4 linked regions of the Homo sapiens genome follow. The protein of the gene in region 2 interacts with the protein of the main gene of each other region in a pairwise test. Each region holds a gene or a part of one and is shown on either strand. Other genes may lie near its edges. The genes, in order: STARD9, SVIL, LIMA1 and ZNF16.

The links.
Region 1: the proteins of SVIL (region 2) and STARD9 interact in a two-hybrid assay, tested with the Homo sapiens proteins (one study listed by BioGRID).
Region 3: the proteins of SVIL (region 2) and LIMA1 interact in a two-hybrid assay, tested with the Homo sapiens proteins (one study listed by BioGRID).
Region 4: the proteins of SVIL (region 2) and ZNF16 interact in a two-hybrid assay, tested with the Homo sapiens proteins (one study listed by IntAct).

Annotation. Positions count from the first base shown.
Region 1 is NC_000015.10:42,689,936-42,697,815, forward strand, and holds part of STARD9 (stAR-related lipid transfer protein 9), read left to right. Parts: coding exon 1-4,407; intron 4,408-4,524; coding exon of another isoform or gene 4,525-4,537; exon of another isoform or gene 4,538-4,592; coding exon 4,593-4,790; intron 4,791-5,204; coding exon 5,205-5,388; intron 5,389-5,807; coding exon 5,808-5,945; intron 5,946-7,880. UniProt on the Homo sapiens protein: Microtubule-dependent motor protein required for spindle pole assembly during mitosis. Required to stabilize the pericentriolar material (PCM).
Region 2 is NC_000010.11:29,519,779-29,527,658, reverse strand, and holds part of SVIL (supervillin), read left to right. Parts: intron 1-602; coding exon 603-698; intron 699-2,943; coding exon 2,944-3,187; intron 3,188-3,631; coding exon 3,632-4,208; intron 4,209-5,023; coding exon 5,024-5,249; intron 5,250-7,880.
Region 3 is NC_000012.12:50,280,154-50,288,408, reverse strand, and holds the start of LIMA1 (LIM domain and actin-binding protein 1), read left to right. Parts: upstream 1-4,888; 5' UTR 4,889-4,989; intron 4,990-8,255. UniProt on the Homo sapiens protein: Actin-binding protein involved in actin cytoskeleton regulation and dynamics. Increases the number and size of actin stress fibers and inhibits membrane ruffling. Inhibits actin filament depolymerization.
Region 4 is NC_000008.11:144,940,580-144,948,459, forward strand, and holds part of ZNF16 (zinc finger protein 16), read right to left. Parts: intron 7,447-7,880; exon of another isoform or gene 7,361-7,446; intron 5,637-7,360; 5' UTR 5,628-5,636; coding exon 5,432-5,627; exon of another isoform or gene 5,334-5,431; intron 1-5,333. UniProt on the Homo sapiens protein: Acts as a transcriptional activator. Promotes cell proliferation by facilitating the cell cycle phase transition from the S to G2/M phase.

The sequences.
Region 1 (7,880 bases), on a different chromosome or scaffold from region 2:
CAGAACTCTAGACACCACATATGGAGAAGTTTCAGATAATTTGTTAGTGACTGCACAGGGAGAAAAAACAGCCCATTTTGAAAGTCAGTCTGTGACCTGTGATGTTCAGAATTCTACAAGTGCCTCAGGGCCTAAGCAAGACCATGTCCAATGCCCTGAGGCTTCTACTGGCTTTGAAGAAGGTAGGGCAAGTCCCAAACAAGATACCATTCTGCCTGGAGCTCTGACAAGGGTTGCACTGGAAGCTCCCACACAGCAGTGTGTGCAGTGTAAGGAGAGTGTTGGGTCTGGGTTGACAGAAGTCTGCAGGGCTGGCAGCAAACATTCCAGGCCAATTCCACTGCCAGATCAAAGACCAAGCGCAAATCCTGGGGGAATTGGGGAGGAAGCCCCATGTAGACACCCAAGGGAAGCTTTAGATGGCCCTGTCTTCTCAAGGAACCCTGAAGGCAGCAGGACTCTCAGCCCGTCTAGAGGGAAAGAGAGCAGAACTCTTCCTTGCCGACAGCCATGCAGTTCTCAACCTGTTGCTACTCATGCTTATTCCTCCCATTCCTCTACTTTACTGTGTTTTAGAGATGGTGACCTAGGGAAGGAGCCTTTCAAGGCTGCCCCACATACTATCCACCCACCCTGTGTAGTACCTTCCAGGGCCTATGAAATGGATGAGACAGGAGAGATCTCTAGGGGACCTGATGTGCACTTGACACATGGCCTTGAGCCCAAAGATGTTAACAGGGAATTTAGGCTAACAGAGAGCAGCACTTGTGAGCCTTCTACTGTGGCTGCTGTCCTATCTCGAGCTCAAGGCTGCAGATCCCCTTCTGCTCCTGACGTGAGGACAGGTTCCTTCAGCCACTCAGCTACTGATGGAAGCGTGGGGTTAATAGGGGTTCCTGAGAAAAAGGTTGCTGAGAAGCAAGCAAGCACAGAACTTGAGGCTGCCTCTTTCCCTGCAGGCATGTACTCTGAGCCCCTGAGGCAGTTTAGGGACAGCTCTGTAGGTGACCAGAATGCACAGGTGTGTCAAACCAATCCAGAACCACCTGCAACAACTCAGGGACCACACACCCTGGATTTAAGTGAAGGGTCTGCTGAGAGCAAGTTGGTGGTAGAGCCACAGCATGAATGTTTAGAAAATACCACTAGATGTTTTTTGGAAAAGCCACAATTTTCCACTGAGTTGAGGGATCACAATCGCTTGGATTCCCAAGCCAAGTTTGTAGCAAGGTTAAAACATACCTGCAGCCCCCAGGAAGACAGTCCCTGGCAGGAAGAAGAGCAGCACAGAGACCAGGCTTCAGGTGGTGGAGAAGGCTTCGCCCAGGGTGTGAATCCCCTTCCTGATGAAGATGGCTTAGATGGCTGTCAGATTTTAGATGCTGGGAGAGAGGAGGTGGCTGTGGCCAAGCCTCCTGTGTCCAAGATTTTATCACAGGGCTTCAAAGACCCAGCCACTGTGTCCTTGAGGCAAAATGAAACACCGCAGCCTGCTGCTCAGAGGAGTGGCCACCTCTACACTGGCAGAGAGCAGCCAGCACCCAACCACAGGGGCTCACTTCCTGTGACTACAATCTTCTCTGGCCCCAAACACTCCAGGTCCTCCCCCACACCACAGTTCTCAGTTGTCGGCTCTTCTCGTTCTCTTCAGGAGCTGAACTTGAGTGTGGAGCCTCCTTCCCCTACAGACGAAGATACACAGGGGCCTAACAGATTGTGGAACCCACATCTCAGGGGCTATTCCTCAGGAAAGTCAGTGGCAAGAACATCTCTGCAGGCTGAGGACAGCAATCAGAAAGCCTCATCTCGCTTGGATGATGGGACTACCGATCACAGGCACCTGAAGCCTGCCACCCCTCCTTATCCAATGCCTTCCACTCTCTCACACATGCCAACCCCTGATTTCACGACCAGCTGGATGTCTGGTACTTTGGAACAAGCCCAACAGGGAAAGCGAGAGAAACTGGGTGTCCAGGTTAGGCCAGAAAATTGGTGCTCTCAGATGGACAAAGGAATGCTGCACTTTGGCTCCAGTGACATCAGTCCCTATGCGCTGCCGTGGCGTCCGGAGGAGCCTGCACGTATCAGCTGGAAGCAGTATATGTCTGGCAGTGCAGTCGATGTTTCCTGCAGCCAGAAGCCCCAGGGGCTGACACTATCAAATGTGGCCCGGTGCTCCAGCATGGACAATGGCCTAGAAGACCAGAACTCCCCTTTCCACTCCCACCTCAGCACTTACGCCAATATTTGTGATCTGTCAACCACACACAGCAGCACTGAGAATGCCCAGGGTTCAAATGAGGCCTGGGAAGTATTCCGAGGGAGTTCTTCAATTGCCTTAGGAGACCCCCACATCCCGACGAGCCCTGAAGGAGTAGCCCCCACTTCGGGTCATGACAGAAGGCCTCAGTTCAGGGGCCCTTCTGGTGAAGCAGACTGTCTGAGGAGTAAGCCCCCCTTGGCCAAAGGAAGTGCTGCAGGTCCAGTGGATGAGATTATGCTGCTGTATCCATCAGAGGCAGGCTGCCCTGTGGGACAGACCAGGACGAACACATTCGAACAGGGCACACAGACCCTCGGCAGCAGGCGCCACTGGAGCAGCACTGACATCTCCTTTGCTCAGCCTGAAGCCAGTGCAGTATCAGCCTTTGATCTGGCCTCATGGACCAGCATGCACAATCTGTCTCTCCACCTCTCACAGCTCCTGCACAGTACCTCAGAGCTGCTTGGGAGTCTCTCCCAGCCAGATGTGGCCAGAAGGGAGCAGAACACCAAGAGGGACATCCCAGATAAAGCCCCACAGGCCCTGATGATGGATGGCTCTACTCAGACCACTGTGGATGAGGGCAGCCAGACTGACCTCACCTTACCCACCCTGTGCCTCCAGACTTCAGAGGCTGAACCTCAGGGAGCCAATGTGATCCTTGAAGGGCTAGGCTCAGATACCTCGACTGTGTCTCAAGAAGAGGGAGATGTGCCAGGGGTACCTCAGAAGAGAGAGGCAGAGGAAACAGCACAGAAAATGGCTCAGCTCCTCTATCTTCAGGAAGAAAGCACTCCCTACAAGCCCCAGAGCCCTTCAATACCCTCATCCCACTTGAGGTTTCAGAAAGCCCCCGTTGGGCAGCATCTTCCTTCTGTGAGCCCCTCAGTTTCTGATGCTTTCCTGCCTCCCAGCTCCCAGCCAGAGGAGTCATATTGCTTAGTTGTCAGCAGTCCCAGTCCCAGCTCCCCTCATTCCCCAGGGCTCTTTCCCAGTACTTCCGAGTATCCTGGGGACTCCAGGGTCCAGAAGAAGCTGGGCCCCACAAGTGCTTTGTTCGTGGACAGGGCCTCCTCCCCAATCCTCACTCTTAGTGCCAGCACCCAAGAGCCGGGTCTTTCCCCAGGCTCTTTGACCCTCTCAGCCCCTTCAACTCACCCTGTTGAAGGCCACCAGAAGCTTGACTCCAGCCCAGACCCTGTTGATGCCCCAAGGACTCCAATGGATAATTATTCCCAAACCACTGACGAGTTAGGTGGCTCCCAGAGAGGTAGAAGTTCCTTACAAAGGAGTAATGGGAGATCCTTCCTTGAGTTGCACTCCCCACACAGCCCACAGCAGAGTCCAAAACTCCAATTTAGTTTCTTAGGGCAGCACCCTCAGCAGCTTCAGCCCAGGACAACTATCGGGGTCCAAAGCAGACTGCTGCCACCACCACTGAGGCACAGGAGCCAAAGGCTGGGCAACAGCTTTGTGCCTGAGAAGGTGGCTTCCCCGGAGCATTGCCCACTGAGCGGTAGGGAGCCAAGTCAGTGGCAGAGCAGGACAGAAAATGGAGGTGAGAGTTCAGCATCTCCAGGGGAACCACAACGCACTCTGGACCGACCTTCTTCATGGGGAGGCCTCCAGCACCTCAGCCCCTGCCCTGTCTCTGAGTTGACTGATACTGCAGGGCTCCGAGGTTCTGCCTTGGGCCTCCCTCAGGCCTGCCAACCTGAGGAGTTACTGTGCTTCAGTTGCCAGATGTGCATGGCCCCTGAGCACCAGCACCACAGTCTGAGGGACCTCCCGGTGCATAACAAATTTAGTAACTGGTGTGGGGTTCAGAAGGGCTCACCTGGGGGGTTGGACATGACTGAGGAGGAGCTGGGGGCCAGCGGTGATCTCAGCTCTGAAAAGCAGGAACAGAGTCCCCCACAACCTCCTAATGACCACAGCCAGGATTCTGAGTGGTCCAAGAGGGAGCAGATCCCCCTGCAAGTTGGGGCCCAGAACCTCTCACTCAGCGTGGAACTCACAGAAGCGAAACTGCACCATGGCTTTGGGGAGGCCGATGCCCTGCTCCAGGTGCTGCAGAGTGGGACAGGGGAGGCGCTTGCTGCTGATGAACCTGTGACATCCACCTGGAAGGAGCTCTATGCACGGTAAGGACCCCCAGCCTGGAGTCGGGAGGGGAAGGGGTGGGCTGTGAGGAAAGAGAACCCAAGAAAGCTAATAGCTTGCTGTTTCCTCTGCCCTGGTTCATCTCTGGGATCTTCCAGGGGTCAGAGATAGATCTTAAAGTGAAGGACATTCAGGGCCAGCTTCAGCGAATCGTGTTTTGCCTCAGGCAAAAAAAGGCCATTGAGACCCTCAGGAGAGAGCGGGCTGAGCGACTTGGGAACTTCTGCCGGACGCGAAGCCTTAGCCCTCAGAAACAACTGAGCCTCCTGCCCAACAAAGATCTCTTCATCTGGGATCTTGACTTGCCCAGCAGACGCCGAGAATACCTGCAGCAACTGAGGAAGGATGTTGTGGAGACCACCAGGTAGTGTGGACCGAGAACCCTGCTGGGAGCAGGCTCTGTTGGGGGAGGGGAGTATGGGGAGCAGGAGCTGAAGTTTTAGCATCCTGGAGGGTTCTCTATAGGAGACAGGGTAAATGGAAAGAGGACATAGAAGGGAATGGAATGAGGGAGGGGGTGGGCAGAGAGAAGGCACAGGAAATGATGGACAGAAGGGCTCTGACATGCTATGCAAGTCTGCAGGCCTGGGTCTCAAGGTGGCTTGGTTCTCTCTGTCCAGCAACCTCTCCTGAGGCTAAAAAATCATACTTTAAAACCCTGTGGGCAAATGGAGGTTGGGTCTTTTAAGAAGGTGGTATCACCCAAGCTAGCCTTGGATGGACAGACCAGGACTGTCACCCACCCACCATGTTCTTTCCACCCCGTGATCTTCCTCAGGAGCCCAGAGTCAGTGTCAAGGTCAGCTCACACACCCTCTGACATAGAGTTGATGCTGCAAGACTACCAGCAGGCCCATGAGGAGGCCAAGGTGGAGATTGCCCGGGCCCGAGACCAACTGCGGGAGCGGACTGAACAAGAGAAGCTGAGAATCCACCAGAAGATCATTTCCCAGCTATTGAAGGTGTGGAGTGGGGCATGCCTCTGATTTCAGGATAGGCCTGGACCTCAGACTGGTACACCTTCACCGTGGCCGCCTCTGAGTCTTGGGACATACGTAACATTTGGAGGAGGCTGTGGGACCCCTGTTGTCAACTCAAAGCTGGGCTCACTGTCTTTTTACATCATCACACCAGCTCCTTTCCCCAGGCCACGGCCTGGGAGGAAGAGGCTTTGGTGTGAGGTGCAGGGTGTGGGGAAATACGAGCAGTGGTGGCTTTAAGGAAGCCAGGGCATGTGAGGCTAAGTCAGGGAGGCCCTGGGAGGTGGGTGAAGGAGCAGTAGAGGTGAGCAGGGAAGGGGTGGCTTTGGGTAGGAAAAGGCGTGGCCTGGGGAAAGTGAGGGTGCATCAGAAGCTGGTTAATGGTGATTTGTCCTTCCCAGGAAGAGGATAAACTACATACCTTGGCCAATTCCAGCTCCCTGTGCACCAGCTCTAATGGAAGCCTCTCGTCTGGCATGACCTCTGGCTATAATAGCAGCCCAGCCTTGTCAGGCCAGCTCCAGTTCCCAGAGAATATGGTGAGTAGGCAGATGTTGGGAATGAGCCAGGGGCCTGGACTGCCAAGGCAAGAGTTTGAGCAGGACGCTGTGCCTCCTGGAGTTTGGGCAAGACGCCGTGCCTCCTGGAGGCCACTGCTGACATGAGCCCTTCTTATGTGCAGGCCTTTGGTTTTCCATTTAGTTCTGCCCCCTGCTCCTTCTGTTCATTCATTCAACAAATGTTTATTCTGTGGGTATTATTTTAGGATACAGCGGTGAGCAAAACTGTTCTTGTCCTTAGACTGTTTGAGGGATAAATATTAAACAACTGATTTTATTGTTTAGTTATTGTTGCAGTAAATTGTTTGAAGGCGGGTTGCTAAACCAGCATAAAACCAGGGGTCTGACTTAGTCTAGAAGGTCATAGAGATACTCCGAACAGAATGTGTTTAAACTGAGACTAAAAGGATAAGAGGTAGTTAATGCAGTAAAAGCTTATTGGTGCTGTTATTGGGAGAGATGTGGGCCTAGCAAGTGAGGCCTTGAGGAAGAAGAGTTTGAGGAACTCAATGAAGGTTAGTGTGGTTGGAATGTAAAGAGCGAGATGGGAAAATGACATGAGAAGGGACTAGAAAATCATGTGGACTATAATGAGAGTTCTGGCCCCTTTCTAATCCATCTCATTGTGTTACTTCCCAAAAGTGAAAAGGCTGCTGAAAGTAATAGAAAACTTTTAAGTAGGGGAGTAGAATGACTGGATAGTAAGAAAAGGAGGCAGGAGCAGCTGTGGGAGACCTCCTAGATGACCACGGCAGAGCTGAGAGAGATGATTGCTTGCTTCAGGGCACTGCTAGTGAAGACGAACAGAGGAGGATGTAATGGAGAGAGAGATCTGCAGGACTTGGTGACTGGTTGGGTGTTAGAGGAAGGAAGAGCGGGGAGTTGAGAAGAGCACACACTTGACTTGAGCAGCTGAAAGGCGGTCATGTGAACAATGACAAGGAACACTGGAGGGAGAACCAGGTTTTGTGTGGGAGATGATGAGTTCAGGTTTGTACTTACTGAGTTGAAGGTGCCTGTGAGAAATCCAGATAGAGCAGTTGGAAATATAGAGCTCATAAGTAAGATCTGGCTGGGGATGAATATTTGAAATTCATTTTACAAATACAACGTCATTTAACAAAATAATGTTTAAACAGTAGCAAAAGACATACAATGTCAGGCACATGTTTGAGTCTCCTATTTGCTTTCCCCAGAAGCAGTCATTTACCCCAGTTTGTTGTATATTTCCAGGGATGATGTATATACATCTTTTTGTAAAGCAGATGAATGGGAGTATACTGTACTCACTTTCTCACTTTGCTTTTTCTTTTAAAAATATCTTTGGGATATCATTGCATATCAGTAAATCTAGTGCTGACTTCTTTTAATTAGTTATTTTAAGAGCCAGGATTTTGCCATGTTGCCCAGGTTAGTCTCAAACTCCTGGGCTCAAGCTATCTTCCCACCTCAGCCTCCTAAAACGCTGGGATTACAGGTGTTAGCTACCATGCCTGGCCTTCTTTTTAACAGCTGAATAGTGTTTCTTTTTTTCTCTTTTATTGCATGTTTTTAAGTTTGATGTTTTATATAGATAATATATTCATATAGTAGAAAGGGCACAAATATATACACATACAGGTTGAGCATCCCTAATCCAAATATCAGAAATTCAAAATACTCCAAAGTCTAAAACGTTTTGAGCACTGTGACACCGGAAGTGGAAAATTCTACACCTGACCTCATGTGACACATTGAGTTGAAACACAGTCAAAACTTGGTTTCATGCACAAAATTATTTAAAACACTATATGAAATTACCTTCAGGCCGTGTGTATAAGGTATATATCCAACATAAATTTTGTATTTTGACATGGATCCTATCCCATCATATCTCCTTATGCATATGCAAATTCTCCAAAATCCGAAAAAATT
Region 2 (7,880 bases):
GGTCAAGAGATCAAGACCATCCTGGCCAACATGGTGAAACCTCATCTCTAATAAAAATACAAAAATTAACTGGGCGTGGTGGTGCGCGCCTGTAATCCCAGCTACTCAGGAGGCTGAGGCAGGAGAATCACTTGACCCCGGGAGGCGGAGTTTGCAGTGAGCCAAGATCATGCCACTGCACTCCAGCCTGGTGACAGAGACAGACTCCATCTCCAAAAAAGAAAAAGAAAGAAAAAAATTAGATTGGAAACAATATTCTAAAACACAGACATAATCTACTGATTTTTTGATAGCTAATATTTGCTTTTTTGAATTATTATTTTTTTTACACCAAGACATGTATTCTCAAGACAGAGTAAATCCTCCCAGCTCTGAACACCTATTCTTACCCCATTTGCTTTGGGTAGCCACTATCTCTTATTTCCTGAGTTTGTATTTGCTTTTGAAGTTCTTTCGTGATTTTTTCTCCCCAAAAATAATTAGCAAAATATTCTGTTAAAATTTTTGATTTAACGTTTCTGAATTTAAAACTATGCTGTCCTTAATGCTTCTTTTCTTCTCTCTCCTTATGAATGTTTCCTCTTTGGCAATTGCTTTTAAAGTGAACCTATCCCCGCTTCGTGTTCTGGGGGCACCCACCCTGTAATGGCGAGACTTCCTAGCCCCACTGTAGCTAGGAGCGCTGTGCAGCCTGCCAGGTACTGGACAGATACAGATGCATGCGGCACCCGGTGCAAAGGTGCCGAACAGCAGATGCATCCTAAAGTCTTGAATGTCTGTCGTTTGTTTGACAAACAAGTCAATGCCGTGAGTTGTTCCAGAATGCGTGGCATTTTGTTTTGTCATAGCACAAGGTGCTGATAACCACATGCTGGCGTGCGTGGGAAAACATTTTGTCTCTCTGCATATGTTATGTGTTAGAACTAGGATCACACTAACTCACGTATCCAGTTGCTTTGTTTGTTTTTCATAATAATGGTCATCCCTCAAAAATTTTGTTCTTCATCTAAATACTGTTATAGCACTTAATAAAGATTAATAGAAAAATGGGACATTGGCCAGGCGCGGTGGCTCATGCCTGTAATCCCAGCACTTTGAGAGGCCAAGGCAGGTGGATCACGAGGTCAGGAGATTGAGACCGTCCTGGCCAACATGGTGAAACCCTGTCTCTACTAAAAATACAAAAATTAGCTGGGCATGGTGGCATGTGCCAGTAATCCTAGCTACTTGGGAGACTGAGGCAGGAGAATCGCTTGAACCTGGGAGGCAGAGGTTGCAGTGAGTCAAGATCGTGCCACTGCACTCCCGCCTGGTGACAGAGCAAGACTCTGTCTCAAAAAAAAAAAAAAAAAAGAAAGAGAAAAAAAGAAAGAAAAAAAAAGAAAAATGAGACATTAACCTGAATGTTGAAATGCTGATAAGACCCAGTCTTTTTCAAACACCTGTAGACACAAATACAGACTGAAAACAATCCTCCCTCTTTCTAATTTATAGAGTCAATGCCATTATATTTTGGGACTGGGAAAATAACAATTTGTAGTGTCTAAACGTAGATGTTTTACTGTCGTGTTTCAGATTGTGGTGCTTTAAAATTATGTCCTCACATCAGGTCATATCCCTTCATTTTACTGTTATATGAGCCAAACCGCAAAAGCTAAAAATAATGGCAGTGCCGGGATAAAGCTGGTACACCCACAGCAGGGCCCTCCCGGAGAAGTGGGTTTCCCTGCCCTCCTGGTTACTGCACGAGGTCCACGGAGGACTCTGAGGCTCAGGTGGCTTTTTTGTCACTGGCCTCATTATACACCTGGAATATGGAAGCTGGCTACTCTTTGGCCTGGGATAGCCTGTGCATTGGGGATTCACTAGAATCAAGGCAGAATATCTCCTTTACTAGATCTGACAATTGGATCGGTCAGGGACAGAAGATATAGTGCATTACAAACCCCTAGAGATTCATATTGACCGTGAAGACTTCAGGCTTTCCTTCTCTTCTAGCTGGAAGTTGGAGGGAGCTATTTATTTATTTACTGATTTATGTATTCATTCATTTATTTTTGAGACAGAGTCTTGCTCTGTCGCCCAGGCTTCATCACTGCACACTGCAGCCTCTACCTCACAGGCTCAAGCGATCCTCCCACCTCAGCCTCCTGAGTAGCTGGGATCACAGGTGCACACCACCAAGCCTGGCTAATTTTTATATTTTTTGTAGAGATGGGGTTTCACGATGTTGCCCAGGCTAGTCTCCAACTCCTAAATTCAAGTGATCCTCTTGCCTTGGCCTTCCATAGATATGAGCCACCAGACCTGGCCAGTTGGAGGGATTTATAATCACCTGAAATTTTCTTTACTCCTCTGGTTACTGGAAATTGCAGATTTAAGTACCTTTTAGAAAACTGGTAGGAACCTATGAGAGTAAATGCTAAGCTGAAGCAGTGACTCTTTAAAAATTAAGCCATTTGTCTTTAGCAAGTAAAAATCAAGACCTTCTGTTATGTTGTTGACAGAGGACTATATCGTTTCCTAATTATTTAAAATGAAAGACCACCTTCTGAACCATATCTTTAGATAAGGTCTAAATACACCGTAGGTAATACTTTGTGACTCCCTTTCATTCTACTTATTACGATACTAACAATGCCGCCTCTCTGTCTAAGATAAGGTATAGCCAAGCTGACTTCAATGTCTTAAACAGGAAATTCGTTTTGTAGAAATAATTCGGAGCTCAAAGTCTGCTCTTTGTAGAAGTGATGATGCTAAGTGTCCTGTGCCGACTCTGCTTGTTGAGTAGCTGAACAGCTGCCTGCCTCTGTCCTAGACGTGCTTAGGGAAAAAGAAGCCCTTTGCAAAATGATGTGACACTTGGCAGAAAGTTAACGTAGAAACTTAGCGGTGTGCTTTTGTTTGTTGGTATATGTGTTGCTGACATTTTATTTTTTTCAGATTGCAGGCCTCTGCTCACCAAAAGGCCTTAGCCAAGGACCAGACAAATGAGGGCAAAGAGCTTGCTGAGCAAGGAGAACCTGATTCCTCCACTCTAAGCTTGGCCGAAAAGTTGGCCTTGTTTAACAAATTGTCCCAGCCAGTCTCAAAAGCGATTTCTACCCGGAACAGAATAGACACGAGACAGAGGAGAATGAACGCTCGCTATCAAACTCAGCCAGTCACACTGGGAGAGGTGGAGCAGGTGGGTGTGCTATAGTCCGATTGCAGTTTGTGTGTGTGTGTTCTTAAATTATAGCACTGCAGTATTCCTCTGAGGTCAATGATGTAATTAAGGTGCTCTACCAGGAAACTGCTACCTGTAGGTGATTTGGTAATAGCTTTCTTCCTAAAAATGAGAATTCTACCAAGTATGTTGCTCTTTTTTTGTTTTCATACCTTGCTTGCTGAAATATCTAGAATGAGTCCATTTTGGAGAGAAAAAAATAGTATGCCCAACTGTGTTTCACCCAGAGGATTTTGTTTAATGAGACGTATTATATAACTATGTCCAGGAATGGTTTTCCACTAAGAGAAACAGTGAAACTGCATCAAATCGAGTATTTCAGCTTCTGTCAATTCATAAACCAGGATTTATATAGATGATATTTTTCAAGCAGCTTTTTAATTTTTAACTGTGTCCTTCCAGGTGCAGAGTGGAAAGCTCATTCCTTTCTCACCTGCCGTGAACACATCAGTGTCTACCGTAGCATCCACGGTTGCTCCAATGTATGCCGGAGATCTTCGCACAAAGCCACCTCTTGACCACAATGCAAGTGCCACTGACTATAAGTTTTCTTCTTCAATAGAAAATTCGGACTCTCCAGTTAGAAGCATTCTGAAATCGCAAGCTTGGCAGCCTTTGGTAGAGGGTAGCGAGAACAAGGGAATGTTGAGAGAATATGGAGAGACAGAAAGCAAGAGAGCTTTGACAGGTCGAGACAGTGGGATGGAGAAGTATGGGTCCTTTGAGGAAGCAGAAGCATCCTACCCCATCCTGAACCGAGCCAGGGAAGGAGACAGCCATAAGGAATCTAAATATGCTGTTCCCAGAAGAGGAAGCCTGGAACGGGCGAACCCTCCCATCACCCACCTCGGGGATGAACCGAAGGAATTTTCCATGGCTAAAATGAATGCACAAGGAAACTTGGACTTGAGGGACAGGCTGCCCTTTGAAGAGAAGGTGGAGGTGGAGAATGTTATGAAAAGGAAGTTTTCACTAAGAGGTAAGTGACCAGTGCCCCTAAAGCTTTAGAAAGCCACTGGGTTTTAGTTTCTGCTTGATTTGTCCTGTGTCTATGATGGCTTTTAACAAAGTTCTATAGGCAGTTTACAGCTAGTATTGGTTAAAAGTTCAGCGGGAATCCTATTCTTCCCTGGATCTGACTAGAGGATACATCAAGTTTTCAGCAATAAAACTACTGGAAGAGCTTTCACACATCTTCATGGAGTTTCTGTTGACTTTGGTCACTCACACAATGGCCTTCTGAGCTGCTTAGTTCTGGTGGCCCCTTTTAGAAATTGATGACCCCAAAGGTCCAGGCTGGGTAAGCACAAGGAATTCAGGAAAGACTTGACCCCAGTCTCTGAATCGCTAGAGTGCTTCTTCCTGCATGCCTGTTTTGCAGGCTAGCAAGCTACACTGCGTGGGCCCTTCATCCTCTTTCTACGTTTGTATGAAACAGTACAGTGTAAGTTATAATAGGGGTTTGCGTTTGTGAGTATAGCACATTTGAATGTTAAGGTATTATTTTGGAGAATAGAACCATTCTGGAGTAAATAGTTAAAGCTGACTTCCTGTGTCTCGCACACAGGAGAGAAACCAATTGCCACGAAGCATTTTGCTGTGTGGGTAACCCTCCAGGAAGTTTGGTTTTCTCACAGAGTGTAGCGTGCTGCAGATTTGCATAAATCCCAGTGGATTGGGTCACCCGCCGTGTGCCCACGGATTGAACCCTGAGAGCTGCACTGTTGAGGGCGAATCGCTGGAAGAATGTTTGCCTGAGGAGTTCAGTGCTGATGTTGCTCTTTTCCTTCCCAGCGGCAGAGTTCGGGGAGCCCACTTCCGAGCAGACGGGGACAGCTGCTGGGAAAACTATTGCTCAAACCACAGCCCCCGTGTCCTGGAAGCCCCAGGATTCTTCGGAACAGCCACAGGAGAAGCTCTGCAAGAATCCATGTGCGATGTTTGCTGCTGGAGAGATCAAAACGCCGACAGGGGAGGGCCTTCTTGACTCACCCAGCAAAACCATGTCTATTAAAGAAAGGTAATGAGATTCGGTGAGCGAAAAGTAATTCTCTCGGGGAGGAGCTTACAGCTTGCTTTTAGAAAACAATCTCGGTGATGGGCAAAGAGATGAAATCATACATTCAGCTTCTAACAGGACTGTGCTGTTGTCCTGGAGTAATTCTAGGAAGCTGAGGTGTTTGAGAGTGAACTGCCTTTGCTCATGAGCCTGGTTTGGTAATGAGCCTGGTTTGGACAGGGCTGGTTCCAGACTCAGATGAGAAAACAAACAGAAACAGACTTCTGTTTTATTTATTTGTTTCCACTGTCCCAATATCTTTTATAATATTAAATTCTTGGACTATCTAATGACAGGAGCTGAAATCTTGGCTCTTCCCCTTTTAGATACACAGGGTTCATACTGAATGCACAAACCACTTGTGACTTTGTGTAAAATATGTGTAGAGGGAGTGAAGATAAATTTACATAGAGGGCATATATCTTTGGACTTAGAATCCAAGTTTTGTTTCTTTTACAGATTGTAAAATGGATGACTTTTCTGAACTGCATTTAGAAATTGTATGTCAGGTAATAGCTTGAAAGATTGCATTTCAGCATCAAATAACACAGTAGCCTAATTTCTTTCAAAAGAATGACGTAGGGTGCAGAGGAATATATTTAAATTAGACAGATACAGAGAACTGGAAGTAAATTACCTTGGGGATGTGTTTTCCTTGTTAACCCTTAACCACAGATGAATTAAGCAGCAAAAGATGCAATAGTGGGAATAAATTCAGAGTTTGATAGCAGAGTAGGGTGACTAAATAAAAACGTATTGTACTGAGGTGATGGACATTCTAAATAGAGGCTTGATCACTATGCATTTTATATGTGTAACAAAATTTCTCATGCACCACATAAATTTGTACAAAAAAAGGAGAAAGTATTCAGTAGGAAAAAAACATGATGGAATAGTTGATAGGAAAACTGGGTGAAGAAAAATCTTGTCAACTCCATATTAGGAGAACCATTTCCATCGCCTGTTCCCACAGTTCTGCCAACCTCCACCCTTCCTCAGCACCTCCCACCACACGGAAGTCTGCAGGCTTCACTGACCACTCTTATTTTTCTAGATACATTTCAAACTGCCTAAGACTATACTAAACCACAATGAAAAGTCTTCTTTCTTTCTTTTCCTTCTTTCCTTTTTTTTTTTTTTTTCTTTTTGAGACTAAGTCTTGCTTTGTCACCCAGGCTGGAGTGCAATGGGATGATCTTGGCTTACTGCAACCTCTGCCTCCCGGGTTCAAGCGATTCTCCTGCCTCAGCCTCCCAAGTGGCTGGGACTACAGACGCACACCACCACACCCAGCTAATTTTTTGTATTTTTAGTAGAGTTGGGGCTTCACCGTGTTAGCTAGGATGATCTCGATCTCCTGACCTCCTGATCCGCCTGCCTCGGCCTCCCAAAGTGCTGGGATTACAGGCGTGAGCCACCGTGCCTGGCCCCTTCTTTCTTTTTTTTTTTTTTTAGAGGAATGGTCTTCCTCTGTTGCCCAGACTAGAGTGCAATGGTGCTGTCACAGCTTCACTGCAGCCTCGAACTCCTGGACACAAGTGATCCTCCTGCCTCGGCCTCCCCAGTAGCTGGGACTGCAGACACGTACCACCATGCCTGGCTAATTTTTTCAAAAAGATTTTTTGTAGAGTTGGGAGGTCTCACCATGTTGCCCAGGCTGGTCTCGAACTCCTGGCCTCAAACAGTCCTCCCACCTCAGCCTTCCAAAGTGCGGGGATTACAGACATGCACCACCACACCTGGCCCTTCTTTCTAGTTTTAAGCCAAGCTTCTTGAACATTATTTGTAAAATAATAGATGCTATCTTTTTCAACTGACAAATTAATCACATTGTTAAATCTGACTTACTTTCTCCTTTACTTACTTAAAATTCATGATAAGTTAGACCTGGCAGGCTGAGGGGCATAGGGAAGGGGCAGAGGGGACAGTGCAATGAGGAGAGGGATGTCTTCAATCGGGGAAGCAGTTGGGCCTATTGAGGCTTGAAGTTCTCTTCCACGAAAATGGGGCTCAAAGAGAGTTTCATCCCAGAAACCCAAATATTGACAACTGGTTAGGTGAGGAAGAAGAGAGATCATTTAAGGAAATTAACAATAAATATCACTTATACACAAGTTCTGATGTTTTACACATGAGAAAATATCCCTGGGGTATTCCCCAGTGGGAAATACTAATATTATGCCCCCTTCTTTCAAAGGCTTTTAAAGGAGCCTTCCCATCTTTGGGAATATTCTGTCCATCTGGACTTAGGACTTTTGATGAAGAAGTCCTGTGTCTATCCACTAAGCAATAATTCCTGATTTACTTACCTGTTTTTTGGTAAATTTTAGTTGACCTGTATTTTTCTGAAAGCTTTAATCCTACTGTAAAATTCTCATTTTTAAAAGTGAGATACTGGAAAGACGTAGCTTCTTAGCTTGGGCTTTGTGGACATGTAAGGCGTTCAAGGATGGCTGTAAAGTTTCTGTGAACAGCCCGGAAGTGTATTCAGAATTGAATGGGTGAGCACACACACCTGCTGGCTAACAGAAGCCATAACTTATCATGGTCTCCAAGAGATCCCTGAGCCCAGTCTGTTCAGAATCATGATAG
Region 3 (8,255 bases), on a different chromosome or scaffold from region 2:
TTGAGGCCAAGAGTTCAAGACCAGCCTAGGCAACATGTGACACCCCATCTCTACCAAAAGTTTTTAAAAATTAGCCAGGTGTAGTGGCATGTGCCTGTCGTCCCAGCTACTTGAGAGGCAGAGGCACGAGAATCACTTGAGTTCAGGAGTGTGAGGTTGTAATGAGCTATGATTGTGCCACAGCACTCCAACCTGGGCAACAGAGTGAGACCCTGCCTCAAAAAAAAAATTATTAAATGGAATGACTTCAAACTGATGACTTAACCAAATATTCAACTTGAGAGTCATGCTTTCTAATGCCAATTTTTAATTTTTCCAAAGCTTTTATAGTGCATTCTATTAATTTTTTAATTTTCTGAATGTTGGTTGATCTTAACTGCAGTGCAACTGAAAGTAATGAAAATTATTTAAGAATATCAATCATTAAAGTAAGGTATTACAAGAAATTAATATTAGCTGATCTTGTTGCTAGGCCAGAATAAAAAGAATGAGAAAAATGCATTTATAATGTAGGATATGTGTGCCATGCAGCATTAGCGGTTGGTAAAGTACATGTCCACCCATCTCAACCTAAGTACTTGGCTAATTTTAATAATTTCAGTTTCAAGTTATTTAGCTATAATTTCCAACTGTTTCCTTTTTTTGGGTTGGTGGTAAACAGAATAAATTTTATCCATAATATTGTTATTTTTTCTTGAGACGGAGTCTCACTCTGTCTCAGGCTGGGGTGCAGTGGCACAATCTCAGTCCACTGCAACTTCCGCCTCCTGGGTTCAAGTGATTCTCCTGCCTCAGCCTCCCGAGTAGCTGTGACTACTGGCGTGCACCACCACGCCCAGTGAATTTTTGTATTTTTAGTAGAGACAGGCTTTCACCATGTTAGCCAAGCCAGTTCTGAATTCCTGACCTCAAGTTATCCGCCTGCCTCGGCCTTCTAAAGTGCTGGAATTACAGGCATGAGCCACCGTGCCCAGACTATCCAGAATATTTTTAAATGATTGACTTGTTTTATTTCAGATACTGAATTATAATTGGTAACAGAACCAAATGATGACATTAGGAAATTTTTCTGACAAATCTGTGGCCACTCCAGTCTTCTTTCCCATTATTGTGAAAGCACCATTAAAACAAAATGCAGCTTACTTTCAACTATTCATTATTAAATTTCAAATATTCATTACTGAAGCCACATTTAAAGTAGACAATATCGGCTGGGCGCGGCGGTTCACGCCTGTAATCCCAGCACTTTGGGAGGCCAAGGCTGGTCGATCACTAGAGGTCAAGAGTTTGAGACCGGCCTGGCCAACATGGTGAAACCCTGTCTCTACTAAAAATACAAAAATTAGCTGGGCTTGGTGGTGCACGCCTGTAATCCCAGCTACTTGGTTGAGACAGGAGAATCACTTGAACCCAGGGGGCAGAGGTTGCAGTGAGCCAAGATCGTGCCAGTGCACTCCAGCCTGAGGGACAGAGCACAACTCTGCCTCAAAAGAAAAAAAGTAAAATAGACAATAATGTAGTAGAAATATAATCTGTGTGGCAGACACCAATTACTTTTTTTTTTTTTTTTGGAGATGGAGTCTCGCTCTGTTGCCCAGGCTGGAGTGCAATGGTGTGATCTCTGCTCACTGCAACCTGTGTCTCTGGAGTTCAAGCGATTCTCCTGCCTCAGCCTCCTGAGTAGCTGGGACTACAGGCGCACACTACTACACCTGGCTAATTTTTGTATTTTTAGTAGAGATGGGATTTCACCATGTTGTCCAGGCTGGTCTCGAACTTCTGACCTCGTGATCCGCCCACTTGTGATCTGCCCACCTCAGCCTCCCAAAGTGCTGGGATTATAGGCGTGAGCCACCGTGCCCAGCTGACACCAATTCTTTTAAAGCAACAAATATCTTTACCAGTACAGAAGCTTATTCAACTGTGTACTGGAGATAAATCTCTAGGTAATTTTCTTCCAATATGTAGATGTCTCATCAATTATAGTGCATATTTGCCATTCTCTTCCAAGATTCTTAAATATGTTGACATAATTTCTTTTGCAGTATGTTCTGCTATTCTTGTTGCACCGTATCATGTATGTAAACATTTGCCTGTATCTACTCCATTTTTCCCTTTCAACTCTATTGTTCCCTTCACTATCAGATAAAGGCCTATGAGTTTTTTGTTTGAGACAGGGTCTTGTTCTGTCGCCCAGGCTGGAGTGCAGTGGTGTGATCTCGGCTCATTACAATCTCCAACTCCTGGGCTCAAGGCATCCTCCCACTTCACACTCCCAGGTAACTGGGATTACAGGCACACACCACCACACCCAGCTTTTTTGTCTGTTTATTTTATTTGTTTGTAAAGACAGGGTTTTGCCATGTTGGCCAGGCTAGTCTCTAACTCCTGGCCTCAAGTGATCCCTGCCTGGGCCTCCCAAAGTGCTGGGATTACAGGTGTGAGCCACTGCACCTGGCCCATGCCCATTCTTTAAGTATTGTCTATGGCTACTTTGGCACATTTGGCACTACAGTGAGAGCTGAGTAGCTGTGACAGAGACTATAAGTCCCACAAAGCCTAAAATATTTACTATTTGGCTGTTTACACAAAAGGTTTGCTAACATATGGTCTAGAAAAATCAACAAAACAATAAATCACGCCCTGACTTGCTGCATTTGCCCATTTCCATGGTGTAAATACTCCCCTTACAGCCAATTTCGTGCTACCAATGTGACATTTCTGAATAGAGTTGGGAAGAGATGCATACAACATATGTAGTATTTCCACAGGGAATACAATGGACAAATAACCTCAAGAGCAGAATTATTAGTAAAATGAAGAAAAAAACTACAAAGTGATGAGTTTTTAATATTTATTATATTTAAAAATTTTTTTTTAGAAATAGGGTCTCACTCTGTTGCCCAGGCTGGAGTGCAGTGGTGTGATCATAGCTCACTGCAACATCAAACTTCTAGCCTCAAGCCATCTTCCCGCCTTAGCCTCCCAAAGCACTGGGATTACAAATGTGACTCAACATGCCTGGCCTATTACTTTTATTTTTAAGATAATTTAATTGTAGCTTATATAATTTGATTTCTAATAATGGTTGTGCTTATGACCTGGCTCATAAAATCCCTGAAAATTTAGCAATCAACCTAATGCTAGCTCTATCTTCAAAAGGAGGCTTTGGGAAAGCAAGTAATTTTTGTATCCACTAAAGCACAGAGCTAAAAAAAATTGGGGGGAGGGGAGACATCTATTGAGGGAACGCCACATGCAGGGTAACGTATTTTCTGGAGTACTATCCTGTATTGATATTGTATGCTCTTTAGCATTCCCATGCTGTCTGCCACTTTTGCTGGAGTCTTGATACTTGATACTGTTAATGCAAAATAAGTAGCAGGCCATTAGTTTGGAGTTGTTTTTGTACCCAGAAAGCAACCCAAAATTTAGAGGTATTCCTTGCACCTTTTGTTTGTTTTGTTTTTTTGAGATGGAGTCTCGTTCTCTCATCCAGGCTGGAGTGCAGTGGCGAGATCTCTGCTCACTGCAATCTCCACTTCCCGGGTTCAAGTCATTCTCGTGCCTCAGCCTCCCGAGTAGCTGGGATTACAGGCACTTACCACCACGTCCGGCTAATTTTTGTATTTTTAGTGGAGACGGTGCTTCGCCATGTTGGCTAGGCTGGTCTCGAACTCCTAACCTCAGGGGATCCGCCTGCCTCAGCCTCCCAAAGTGCTGGGATTACAGGTGTGAGCCACCGCGCCCGGCCCCTTGTACCTGATTTTGAATGGAGTTTCAACCAATCACAAACAGACAACCAGCCAAGTGGTTATATAATTAGGGACCTCCCATGTGACCATACCCAAATAAGGCAAACGCTTAGCTGTAGCCAATCAAATTTCTTTACTTTCGTGTTCAGCCTATAAAGTTTGATGCCTGGGCAGCTAGAGCAGGGGTGTCTGAGCCTCTTTTGGTTCTGACTGTTGTCCGATTCAAAATCTAAGTTTGTTTTGTCTGAAATTTTTATTTCTACAATACCTATCCAGAAATCAGTCTAGGCTGGATATTTGAAGGAAGAAGGGAATAACTGGCTGGCATATTCATCACCTGTTGGAAATCTCTCTTCTCACACATTTTCATTAACTTCTTGAGGAAGTGTAATTACAAGCGTTTTCCCACGAGCAGCCCCTACTAATAACGCATCAAGCTGCATGAATTCCGAAAAGCTTCAGAAAACTTGTGGTCTGAAACCCTACTATGCTTGAGGTACAGGAAAGAAGGATACTATCAAAAGGCATCATGCAGCTGGCACGGAACTGGGACAAGAATTTGGGGGCAGGATGGCCAAGTGCTAGGCCAATTGACGGTCTCCAAACCATTAGCACAGCTCCTATTCTGAATGGAGGAGTAAAAACAGCTGTTGGAGAACTTGGACGTCATCTGCCCTTGTCAAACCGTTTTCAGGATTAATGTACTTAATTCAGCTTTTTCCACTACACCACACAGCCTCCTGTAAAACACCCTCCCTGCACACAACTTACCCCCAAAGCACCAGGAACCTAGCTGGCTAGAGTTGAGCTTAGGAAAAACCTGAGTGGCTCCAGAGTCAAACTGCGATAACGTTGAGTCAGAGGAGTTAAGGACAAAGTAGAGCTGCACAGAGGCCCACGTCGTGCAAGTGCGTGTCTCCTTCAGAGAAAAGCGTGCCGAGGTAGACTAGGCCCCGGGCAGCAAAAACCCTGTCCCGTCGCCAGCGCCCCGCACCGCCAGAGCGACTGGAGCAGACGCGAGCGCTGGGCACGTAGCCGGTGGCGCGCACGCTCAGCCCGAGGCCGCACGGGAGGCTGTCTGGCGTGCGCGCCCCCGCGGCGGTGGGCGGGGTCCGGGGCGGGGCCGCAGGAGCAGTAGGTGTTAGCAGCTTGGTCGCGACAGGTGCGCTAGGTAGAGCGCCGGGACCTGTGACAGGGCTGGTAGCAGCGCAGAGGAAAGGCGGCTTTTAGCCAGGTAAGGGCCTTCTCTCTCCACAACCGGAGAGTGCGGGAAGACCCCGGCTTCTCTCCACACCCTCTTTCTCCTTCGACTTTTGGGGCGGGGGGAGTGCAAGGAGTGTGAGTCCCTCCCCCTCGAGATAAGGGGTCGAGGGACGCTGATCCTCCGTTCTTTCCTCACTTCTGGGGCCTGCGCTGGGTGGGGAGTGCTTATGTCGGGCTGAGCCTTTGCTGCCCAAGGGCGGGAGCTGCAAATACCCCGTCCTCTCCCACCGAGAACACTGCATTCTAACTGTATACTTTCTGGTGTGGTGGAGGAAGGTGACAATTCATTAAAACTCCAAATACCCTCCTTCCAGGGAAATACTGTAATATTCAACTGTTCTTTTTCCTTCATTTTCAGCCATTCCCTCTCTTTTCGATTTTTTCTCCCTTCCATTACGCCAGCTGAACTCTGTTTAAGACACTTACACCCTTTTGAGGAATGTTGAGAATATAGCAGTCCTTGCAGCCGATGTGTCATCCCCGAATCGCTATCGTGTATATATCGCTGGCACTTGCCCCCGACATATGTTGGTGTTAATGTAAGGTAATTGTACACCCCTGGCTACACATACTAAAGCTTGAAGTTGTAGCTGCTAGGAACGAACCATCTGGCACCCTTCCTAGCCTCCTTACTGATGCTTGCAAGAACGGTTTAGCTGATCCTGGTGAGAGATATTTGAACTACTATTGTCTTGCACCTAATTCCAGCTTTCAAAAGTCTGCCTTGGACGGGCGCAGTGGCTCACGCCTATAATCCCAACACTTTGGGAAACTGAGGCGGGAGGATCGCTTGAGCCCAGGTGTTTGAGACCAGCCAAGGCAACTTAGCGAGACCCTTGTCTCTACAAAAAAATAAATAAATAAATAAAAATAAAAGATAAGTCTGCCTAATCCAGATCTGCCTAATCCAGATGGTTCAATTGACTTGACTTTTCAGGTTAGTCAAAGGTAATTAGGGAGTTATCAGTTTTTAAGGCAATGCCCATTTTGGGGAGAGGTTTTCTTTTGCATTAAGTATTCTTTCTTTTGCTCTTGATTTAAATGGTTTAACACAGTACCTTTTATCTGCTTGGTTACCAATACTATTCACAAATGCTAAATATTTCAGGAGCCATGAAATAACACCAATCCTTTCTTCTGAGGTATGATGTAGACACAAAAGAACATGACCCCTAACAACATGTTCTAAGTTCCTGTAGAGGTATAACCTGGGTGCAGGATGATCACGTTTTAGATAGATCTTCAAAAAATTATAGAGTTGGCGTGAAAGAAGGCAAAAAAAAGTGTGTGTTCATATATGTTTTCTTGTTTTGCATTGATAGAACAACATATAATGTACTAGGTAATTAGTTTAGGAACTTATTTCATTCTTTGGACAAAATATTGAGTGCCTTTCATGTCAGTCCTACTGTAGATTCAAAGTGCCAAACGTCTTTACCCTAAAAGAACTTAAAATCAAATGGGTTAGACAGATCCACATACAATTTATGGTATTAGTGAGGTCATTTCTATACTAGAGGTCAGCCCAGGGTACTGTAGGAGCATAGGGAATATAGGTGTTTTGTTTTGTTTTTTAATTCTCTCTTCTGCTTTTCCTTAAAAACAAAAACCTCTGAGTAATAATGAGTGATTCTCTTCAATCTATGTATTTGTATCACTTTCATATTTCTTACCCTCTCTTCCTCCAATTCTATGGCCTATGGAAAATGGGATTAGACCCTGTTGTTAATGTGGCATTTAGTAAATAGTTGGATCTGTTTCCACTGTTCTGTATTGGGCTGGGAAGTGTTGTTATCAGGTAGTCCCTGGGAAGAGAACAGTATATTGGCAACATTAGCAAAGGAGTGCCATTTTGTAAAAATTACCTCATTGTATAACTTTCTTTAACTTGGTACACTCAAGCTTTGTTCCAGACTCTGGTTAAAGGTGGGGCTAAATTTCAACCTAATAATTCTAAAAGAAAGCTTCAGAAGCTAAAACAATTCACATCTTGGTGACAGGGGATACTTTTTCCTGCTAAGATGCCCTCAAAATGTTTTTCTCTTTCTTTTTTTCTTGGGTGGGGAAGACAGGGTAGATAGGTGGGTGGGGAAAAATGTTTTTAAGTATAATTTTGACTAGTGTTTCTTCAGGTTTCAAATTCTTATATTTTCTCTGGTATTTTTCACCAGTTAACTGCAATTAACTTAGAGCCCTCGTACCAAAAAAATTTATCAAAGACACACACACAGACACAAAAGAATATTGAGAGTGTGGGAGTTCATTAGACATCTTTGGCATAATAGGGCACCTAACCACAAATTGGAAGAATTTATTATTTAAATTGACAGTGAAACTAGTTTCAGGCATTCTTAATTCCATACACTATTAGATAGATGACTTTTAGATTAGAATTGTACCCTTTCTGCAGATAGGAAAATGTATAACGAGTCCTAAGTTAGTAATTTCCATTAGAAAAGGCAATTGTTTTTTAAGTTTGCTATTGTCTTTCACTGTATGTTTTTTGATAGAAACTTAAGGTACTTCATTTTAGATTGCATACAGTAATCTCCAGGTGAGGTTACTTAACACAGCCTCTTCAGGTTACTAACAAACCAGTGGTTGTAAATGAAGTAGTTTCTACTTAATGATTATGGAGTTGAGAGTCTATGGTGGATGATAAGGTAGGACCATACTGATGAGTTTATTCTGAAGCTGGGTGCAGAGTCCTCAAGACTCAGTCAAATTATTGTGCTACTGAAGACCTCTTTTCATAAAAAGGATGGAGTTTGACCTAACAAGCAATCCATTATTCAGCATGTCAGATGATTTCTTGACACGTGAAAACTTTCTAGAGACTTCCTGTGTCCACTCATAAGAAGTTAACATGATACCATGAAAATTTTACATTCTTTTGATGTTCTTTTAAATAATTTCTTAATACTACTACCCTGGGCCGGGCGCGGTGGCTCACGCCTGTAATCCCAGCACTTTGGGAGGCCGAGGCGGGAGGATCACGAGGTCAGGAGATCGAGACCATCCTAGCTAACATGGTGAAACCCAGTCTCTACTAAAAATACAAAAACAAAATTAGCCGGGCGTGGTGGCAGGCGCCTGTAGTCCTAGCTACTCGGGAGGCTGAGGCGGGAGAATGGCGTGAACCCGGGAGGCGGAGCTTGCAGTGAGCGGAGATCGCGCCACTGCACTCCAGCCTGCGTGACAGAGTGAGACTCCGTCTCAAAAAAAAAAAAAAAAAAA
Region 4 (7,880 bases), on a different chromosome or scaffold from region 2:
AATCTTTTTAAATTTATTGAGACTTGTTTTGTGGTCTAACATATGGTTTGTGTTACATGTACACTTGAGAAGAATGTATATCTTCTTTTCTGAATGGAGTATTTTATATACTTCTGTCTTAGCCCATTTGGGCTACTGTAACAAGATACATTAGACTGGGTAATTTATAAACAACAGAAATTTATTGCTCACAGTTCTGGAGGCTGGGAAGTTCAAGATCAAGGTGCCAGTGGATTCACTGCCTGATGAGAGCTGGTTCCTCCTAGGTATTCCCTTCTATGTGTATTCACATGGTAGAAGGGCAAGAAAAGAAGCTAACAAGCTCCCTCAGGCCTCTTATAAGGAGATAATCCCATTCACAGGGCTCTGCTCTCATGGCCCAGTCACCTCCCAAAGGCCCCACCTCTTAATAACGACACACTGCAGATTAGATTTCAAGATATGACTGGAGAGGGGAGGGGTTGGGGGGGACATTTAGACCACAGTGATGGTCGTCCATTAGGTCTAGTTGGGTTGTAACGCTGTTCAAATCCCCTAGTTCCTTAGTGATCTTCTGTCTAGATGTTCTATCCATTTTTCAAAGTGGAGTACTGAAGTCTCTATTACTATAGAGCTATTTCTCCCTTCCAATCTGTCTATGTCTGTTTCAGATAGTTTGGAGCTCTTTTTTTTGATGTGTATCTGCTTATAATTGCCATATCTTCTTGATGACTCTGCCCTTTTATAAATACATACTGTCCTTATTTGTCATCTATTTTGTCTAATATTGGTATAGTCACCCCAACTCTCTTTTGGTTATTCTCTGCATGGAATATTTTTCCACCTTTCACTTTAAACTTATTGTGTCTTTGAATCTAAAGCCTCTTGTGGCATATAGTTGGACCATGTTTTCTTACACATTCTGTCAATATTTGCCTTTTGACTGGAGACTTCACATGTAATTACTGAAAAGGAAGGACTTCTGCCATTTTATTTATTTTTGATAAATCTTTTACCTTTTTGTTCCTCAGTTCCTCTACTGCTGTATTCTTAGGTATTACCTTTTTTGTAGTGTACCATTTTAATTCTTGCCTTACTTCTTGTGTCCATTTTTTTTTTTTTGAGACAGTCTCGCTGTCACCCAGGCTGGAGTGCAGTGGCATGGTCTCAGCTTACTGCAACCTCTGCCTCCCAGGTTCAAGGGATTCTCCTGCCTCAGCCTCCCAAGTAGCTGGGACTACAGGCGGGTGCCATCGTGCCCGGCTAATTTTTTGTATTTTTAGTAGAGATGGGGTTTCACTGTGTTGGCCAGGATGGTCTCAATCTCCTGACCTCATGATCTGCCCACCTCAGCCCCCAAAGTGCTGGGATTACAGGCGTGAGCCACCGCGCCTGGCCTCTTGTGTCCATTTTTAAGATTTTTTTTTTTTTTTTTTTGAGAGGGAGTCTCGCTCTGTCTCCCAGGCTGGAGTGCAGTGGCGCGATCTTGGCTCATTGCAAGCTCCGTCTCCCGGGTTCACGCCATTCTCCTGCCTCAGCCTCCCAAGTAGCTGGGACTACAGGTGCCCACCACCTTGCCTGGCTAATTTTTTTGTATTTTTAGTAGAGACGGGGTTTCACTGTGTTAGCCGGGATGGTCTCAATCTCCTGACCTTGTGATCTGCCCGCCTCGGCCTCCCAAAGTGCTGGGATTACAGGCATGAGCCACCATGCCTGGCCCATTTTTAAGATTTTTTTTTGAAGTGGAGTTTTGCTCTGTCACCCAGGCTGGAATGCAGTGGCACAATCTCATGCCTCTGCCTGAGTTCAACCTCTGCCTCCTGGGTTCAAGCAATTCTCCTGCTTCAGCCTCCTGAGTAGCTGGGATTACAGGTGCCCACCACCATGCCCAGCTAATTTTTGTATTTTTAGTAGAGACAGGGTTTCACCATGTTGGCCAGGCTGGTCTCGAACTCCTGACCTCAGGTGATCTGCCTGCCTTGGCCTCCCAAAGTGCTGGGATTACAGGTGTGAGCCACTGCGTCAAGCCCATTTTTAAGATATTTTCTTACTGATTACCATGATGATTGCAATGAACGTTCTAACATCCTAAAACAACTGATACCAGTTTAGTCTCAGTAACACAAAATCTCTGCTTCTCTACAGATGTTACCCCCCTTATGTTGTTGTCATCACAGATTACACCTTTATACATAGTGGGGTAAAAAACATAGACTTATAATGCAGACCTTTTATGCATTTGTTCTTTAGATCACTTAGGAAATATGTAATGGCAAAAACCACAATTAATTTTGCACCAACTTAATACAAAGTGTACTTAGAAACCAAAATATAGGGATACTAACTTTTATACTTACCTATGTAGTTACTTTTACTGGAGGTCTTTATTTTTGTATGGCTTTGAGTCCCTGTCTAGTGTTCTTTCATTTCAACCTTCAGGACTCCCTTTAAAAGCATTCCTTGTGGGGCAGTCTATTTGTAACAAGCTTCCTCAGCTTTTATCTACCTGGATATGTTTTAATTTCTCCTTCATTTTGAAGAATAATTTTGCCAGATAACAGAATTCTTAGTTGACAGGTTTTTTTCCCCCTCTTAGCAGTTTAACTAAGCCGTCCCACTGCCTTCTGACCTCCATGGGTTCTGATGAAAAACTGGCTAGAAATCTTACCCAGAACCCCTTGTTCAGGGATAGGTCTCCTCTCTTGCTGCTTTCAAGATTCCTTGTATTTCAACAATTTGATTAGAAAGAGACCTGGTGTGGATCTCTTTAAATAGACTCTACTCAGTTTGTTGAACTGCTTGTGTGTGTAGACATGTCTTTCATCACATTGGGGATACTCTCAGCCATTATTTCTTCAAATATTTTTTCCATCCCCTTCTCTATTCTTTTCCTTCTTGAACATCCCTACTATGCACGTTGGTCTACTTGATGGTGTCTCATGGTCCATTAAGTTCACTTTTCTTTTTTCTTTTTTTTTTGAGACAGAGTCTCACTCCATTACCCAGGCTGGAGTACAGTGGCACGATTTCGGCTCAATGCAACCTCCGCCTCCTGGGTTCAAGCGATTCTCCTGCCTCAGCCTCCAGAGTAGCTGGGACTACAGGCATGCATCACCACGCCTAGCTGATTTTTGTAGTTTTAGTAGAGACAGGGTTTCACCACGTTGGCCAAGATTCTCTCGATCTCCTGACCTCAAGTGATCTGCTTGCCTCGGCCTCCCAAAGTGCTGGGATGACAGGCGTGAGCCACAACGCCCAGCCATTAAGTTCACTTTTCTTAGATCTTTTTTCTCCTCAGACTGAATGATTTCAATTATCCTATCTTCAAGTTGCCGATTTTTCTGCCTGCTCAAATCTACTGCTGAAACCCTCTAGCAAAATTTCCATTTCATTTTTTAGTTCCAGACTTTCTATGTTTCTTTTACAATTTGTATTTCTTATTGATATTTTCATTTTGTTCACACATCATTTTCCTGGTTCTTTTAGTTCTCTATGGTTTTTTTTTTTCTTTTTTTCTTTTTTTTTTTCTTGAGACGGAGTCTCACTCTGTCACCCACGCTGGAGTGCAGTGGTGTGATCTCAGCTCACTGCAAGCTCCGCCTCCTGGGTTCATGCCATTCTCTTGCCTCAGTCTTCAGAGTAGCTGGGACTACAGGTGCCTGCCACCATGCCCAGCTAATTTTTTGTATTTTTAGTTGAGATGGGGTTTCACCTTGTTAGCCAGGATGGTCTTGATCTCCTGACCTCGTGATCCACCTGCCTCAGCCTCCCAAAGTGCTGGGATGACAGGCATGAGCCACCGTGGTGCTGGGTTACAGGCGTGAGCCACCGTGGTGCTGGGTTACAGGCGTGAGCCACCGTGGTGCTGGGTTACAGGCGTGAGCCACCGTGGTGCTGGGTTACAGGTGTGAGCCACCGTGGTGCTGGGTTACAGGTGTGAGCCACCATGCCCAGCCTAGTTCTCTATGGTTTCTTTCACCTCTCTGAGCATATTTGAGGCAGTTGATTTGAAGTTTTTGTCTACTTAAGTCCAATGTCTGTGCTTTCTCCAGGACACTTTTTGTCAGTTTACTTTTTTCCTTTGAATGGGACATATTTTTTTGCTTCGTTATATGCTTCATGATTTTTGCTTTGTTAAAAACTGCACAACTGAATATTAAAATGTGGTATCCCCCCTCCAGGCTTTGCTGTTTTTGATTGTTGAAGACTAGAGTCACATGTTCATTTAGTGACTTTTCCAAACTATTTTTGCAAAGACTATTCTTTGTCGAGTACAGTCACTGAAGTCTTTTTCTTTAGCTTGTGTTCAACCAGTGTTTTGACAGAGATTTTATCAAGAGAAAAACCAACACAAAACACTTCTCCCAGTCTTTGTGGATTGACTCTGTGTTGGGGTACTTTTTAAACGCTGTTTACAACTCTTTCTGAGTTGACTGCCTTCACTGAGCCTAGAGATTAGACAGAGTTCTTGAGAAAGCTTATGGTCTTAACAGGTCTTTTCTGAGCACACACCCAGTCCTGCGCATGCATGTGACTTCCTGGATTCCCCAAAATATATAGGTGCTTTTTTTTTTTTCAAATTTATGTATTTTTTTCTGAGACAGAGCCTCACTCCAGTTGCCCAGGCTAGAGTGCAGTGGCATGATCTTAGCTCACTGCAACCCTTGCCTACCAGGTTCAAGCAATTCTTGTGCTTCAGCCTTCCAAGTAGGTGGAATTACAGGTATGTGCCACCACACCTGGCTAATTTTTGTACTTTTAGTAGAGACAGGGTTTTACCATGTTAGCCATGCTTGTCTCGAACTCCTGGCCTCAAGCAATCCACCCACCTCGGCCTCCCAAAGTGCTGGGATTACAGGCGAGAGTGATCACACCCAGCCTTTCTTAATTTTTTAGTAGAGATAGGGTCTTGCCATGTTATACTGGCTGGTCCTGAACTCCTGGCCTCATACAATCCTCCTGCCTTGGCCTCTCAAAGTGCTCAGATTATAGGTATGAGCCACCACACCCGGGCCAAGGGTGCTTTTGAATGCCTCTATTTCCCCACAAGAAACTCCTCAGCTTTTCTTCCTAGGCTTTAGATGGCCAACTGTATGGGTAACCACAGTACAAAGCCCTGGACCAGAGTAGAGTCCTGAGGGGAGAGGGCTGCCACCAGCCTGGTTGTTGAATTGGGAAGGGGTCAGGAGTATAGGGCAAATCAAAGGACGCTGGTGGCCATCATGTCATACCTCTTCGTGTCAAGTGGGGAAATCACAGTTCTGCTCAAGGTGCCAGGGGCCAGGCTAGGTTAACTTCCTTGCTGACATCCAGCCTTGGCTCCTTGAGTCAGAGTACCCCGTCACCCTCCCTACCTGTGATGACACAGATGCCTCCTAGGGGTAAGCACAGGGTTCCATGGACATCACTTCCCCAGAATAAGGGCACCAGCGGAGAACTGTTCTTAAAGTACCTGGCTGCTGATAGTGAGGGCAGATGGCTTCCAGCTCAGTATCACTACAGCAGGGGGTACCACAGGCTGCAGATCCAGGGTGGGTCACAGCAGGAGCATCTCTCACACGGGCCTGGGCTGCAGGGGTCCAGGGGGATGGTCCTGGAACTGAGAGCTCCATCTCTGCCTCCTCACGGCGAGTTCTGAGGCTGGGCATGACAAGGACCTGAAAACCGGCAAGAACACAGGTGAGTCTACAGACAGGCTAGCTCTAGGGATTCATCCTCCCATCAGGCCGGGGTCTCTTCCTCCACCCCTGCAGCCCAAGACCTGAAGAGGGCCTGGTGCTGCCAGGTCTCAGGGGCTGATGCTGTGTTTCCTGATCTTGGACCTAAAAAGAGGGAGTCAGCCATGGAGACACAGACTCAAAAGCCAGGGCCACAGTACAAAGGGGCAAGATGCTGACCCTAAGGTAAAGTGGGTCATGGTGCCCAGACCTGCCATGATAGGAGGGCAGCCCCCACAGGGTCTGTGTCCTGCTGTGGGGCCTGTGTACTGCTGTGGGGCCTGTACCCTGCTGTGGGCCTGTGTCCTGCTGTGGGTCTGTATCCTGCTGTTGGGCTTGTGTCCTGCTGTTGGGCCTGTGTCCTGCTGTTGGGCCTGTGTCCTACTGTGGGCCTGTACCCTACTGTGGGCCATACCCTGCTGTGGGCCCGTGTCCTGCTGTGGGGCCCGTACCCTGCTGTGGGCCATACCCTTCTGTGGGCCTGTACCCTGCTGTGGGCCTGTGTCCTGCTGTGGGCCTGTGTCCTGCTGTGGGGCTGTGTCCTGCTGTGGGCCTGTATCCTGCTGTTGGGCCTGTGTCCTGCTGTTGGGCTTGTGTCCTGCTGTGGGGCCTGTGTCCTGCTGTGGGGCCTGTACCCTGCTGTGGGCCATACCCTTCTGTGGGCCTGTACCCTGCTGTGGGCCTGTGTCCTGCTGTGGGCCTGTGTCCTGCTGTGGGGCTGTGTCCTGCTGTGGGCCTGTATCCTGCTGTTGGGCCTGTGTCCTGCTGTTGGGCCTGTGTCCTGCTGTGGGCCTGTACCCTACTGTGGGCCATACCCTGCTGTGGGCCTGTGTCCTGCTGTGGGGCCTGTACCCTGCTGTGGGCCATACCCTTCTGTGGGCCTGTACCCTGCTGTGGGCCTGTGTCCTGCTGTGGGCCTGTGTCCTGCTGTTGGGCTTGTGTCCTGCTGTTGGGCTTGTGTCCTGCTGTGGGGCCTGTGTCCTGCTGTGGGGCCTGTACCCTGCTGTGGGGCCTGTACCCTGCTGCGGGCCTGTACCCTGCTGCGGGCCTGTATCCTGCTGTGGGCCTGTGTCCTGTTGTGGGGCCTGTATCCTGCTGTGGGCCTGTATCCTGCTGTGGGCCTGTATCCTGCTGTGACCACTCTTCTCACTCCTTGTTGCTGACATTCACAATGCTCTGAAGCTGGGCAGGCCAGACCCACCTAGAGTGGGAGAACAGCAGCTCCAAAGGGTGAACAGCCAGGGGCAGCCTGTGCTGCAGCCCCACATGTCATCATTATGTGTCAACGCCTACCAAATCCTAGTGGTCAGTTCTATCTGAGTTGCACCATCCTGGCAGCACCCACAGCAGGTGTTCCCATCTTTACTTGCACCAGCTACTCCCTCCTAGCCTCTCATTCCCCATTTCATGTTGGCACCCCAGTGTGCACTTCTGCACTGCCACCAACTTCCTTGGTGATTATGTCCAGTCTTGAGGCATCAACACCCTTGTTAAGATTCACAAACTTGGGCTCATCTCCAGTCCTAACTACTCCCTGTGAGCAGGAGAGAGGACACTCCCACGTGGCGGCATGACGGGCTCCTCACATGTTACTGATTCCCCCACCCCTCACTGTGTAAATGCACCATACCCTGCCCGGGTGCCCACTGGGAGCACTGACATACCTCAGCCCTTCACTCACATTGTACTGACATTGACTCTTCTGTCCTTCATGAGCACCAGCTGAGAATGAGGGTGTGGTCAAGGGGATCTGCAAAGGGGATGTGAAGAAAGGTGGCAGAAGGATGGTGCAGGGAGTCAACGTGATGGTACGTGTCACCCATAGGCCATGTGGGGAAGAAAGAAGGGCTGGGTGGTGCTCCTGGACTCAGATCACCATCAAGGAGAAGGCAAGGAGATATGAACAGAGCTCACAGGGATGGTTACTATGGACCAATGATAAGGGGCCTTGGCTGCCAGATGAAGGTGAAACACTGGCCACATTTCTGTGTCAGGAGAGACAAAACTAATATCTCAAGATTAACTTGGCAGGGTGCTCAGAGGAATGGTGGGAGATGAGATTCAAAGCAGGTACAGCACTAAGGTGCCTACCACGTGGCAGCAGAAATGGAGGAGACATGGGCGATGGGGGTGACAAGGCCCTCTGTGACTGCATCTGCCTGCCCTTACAGTGCAGATGCCCAG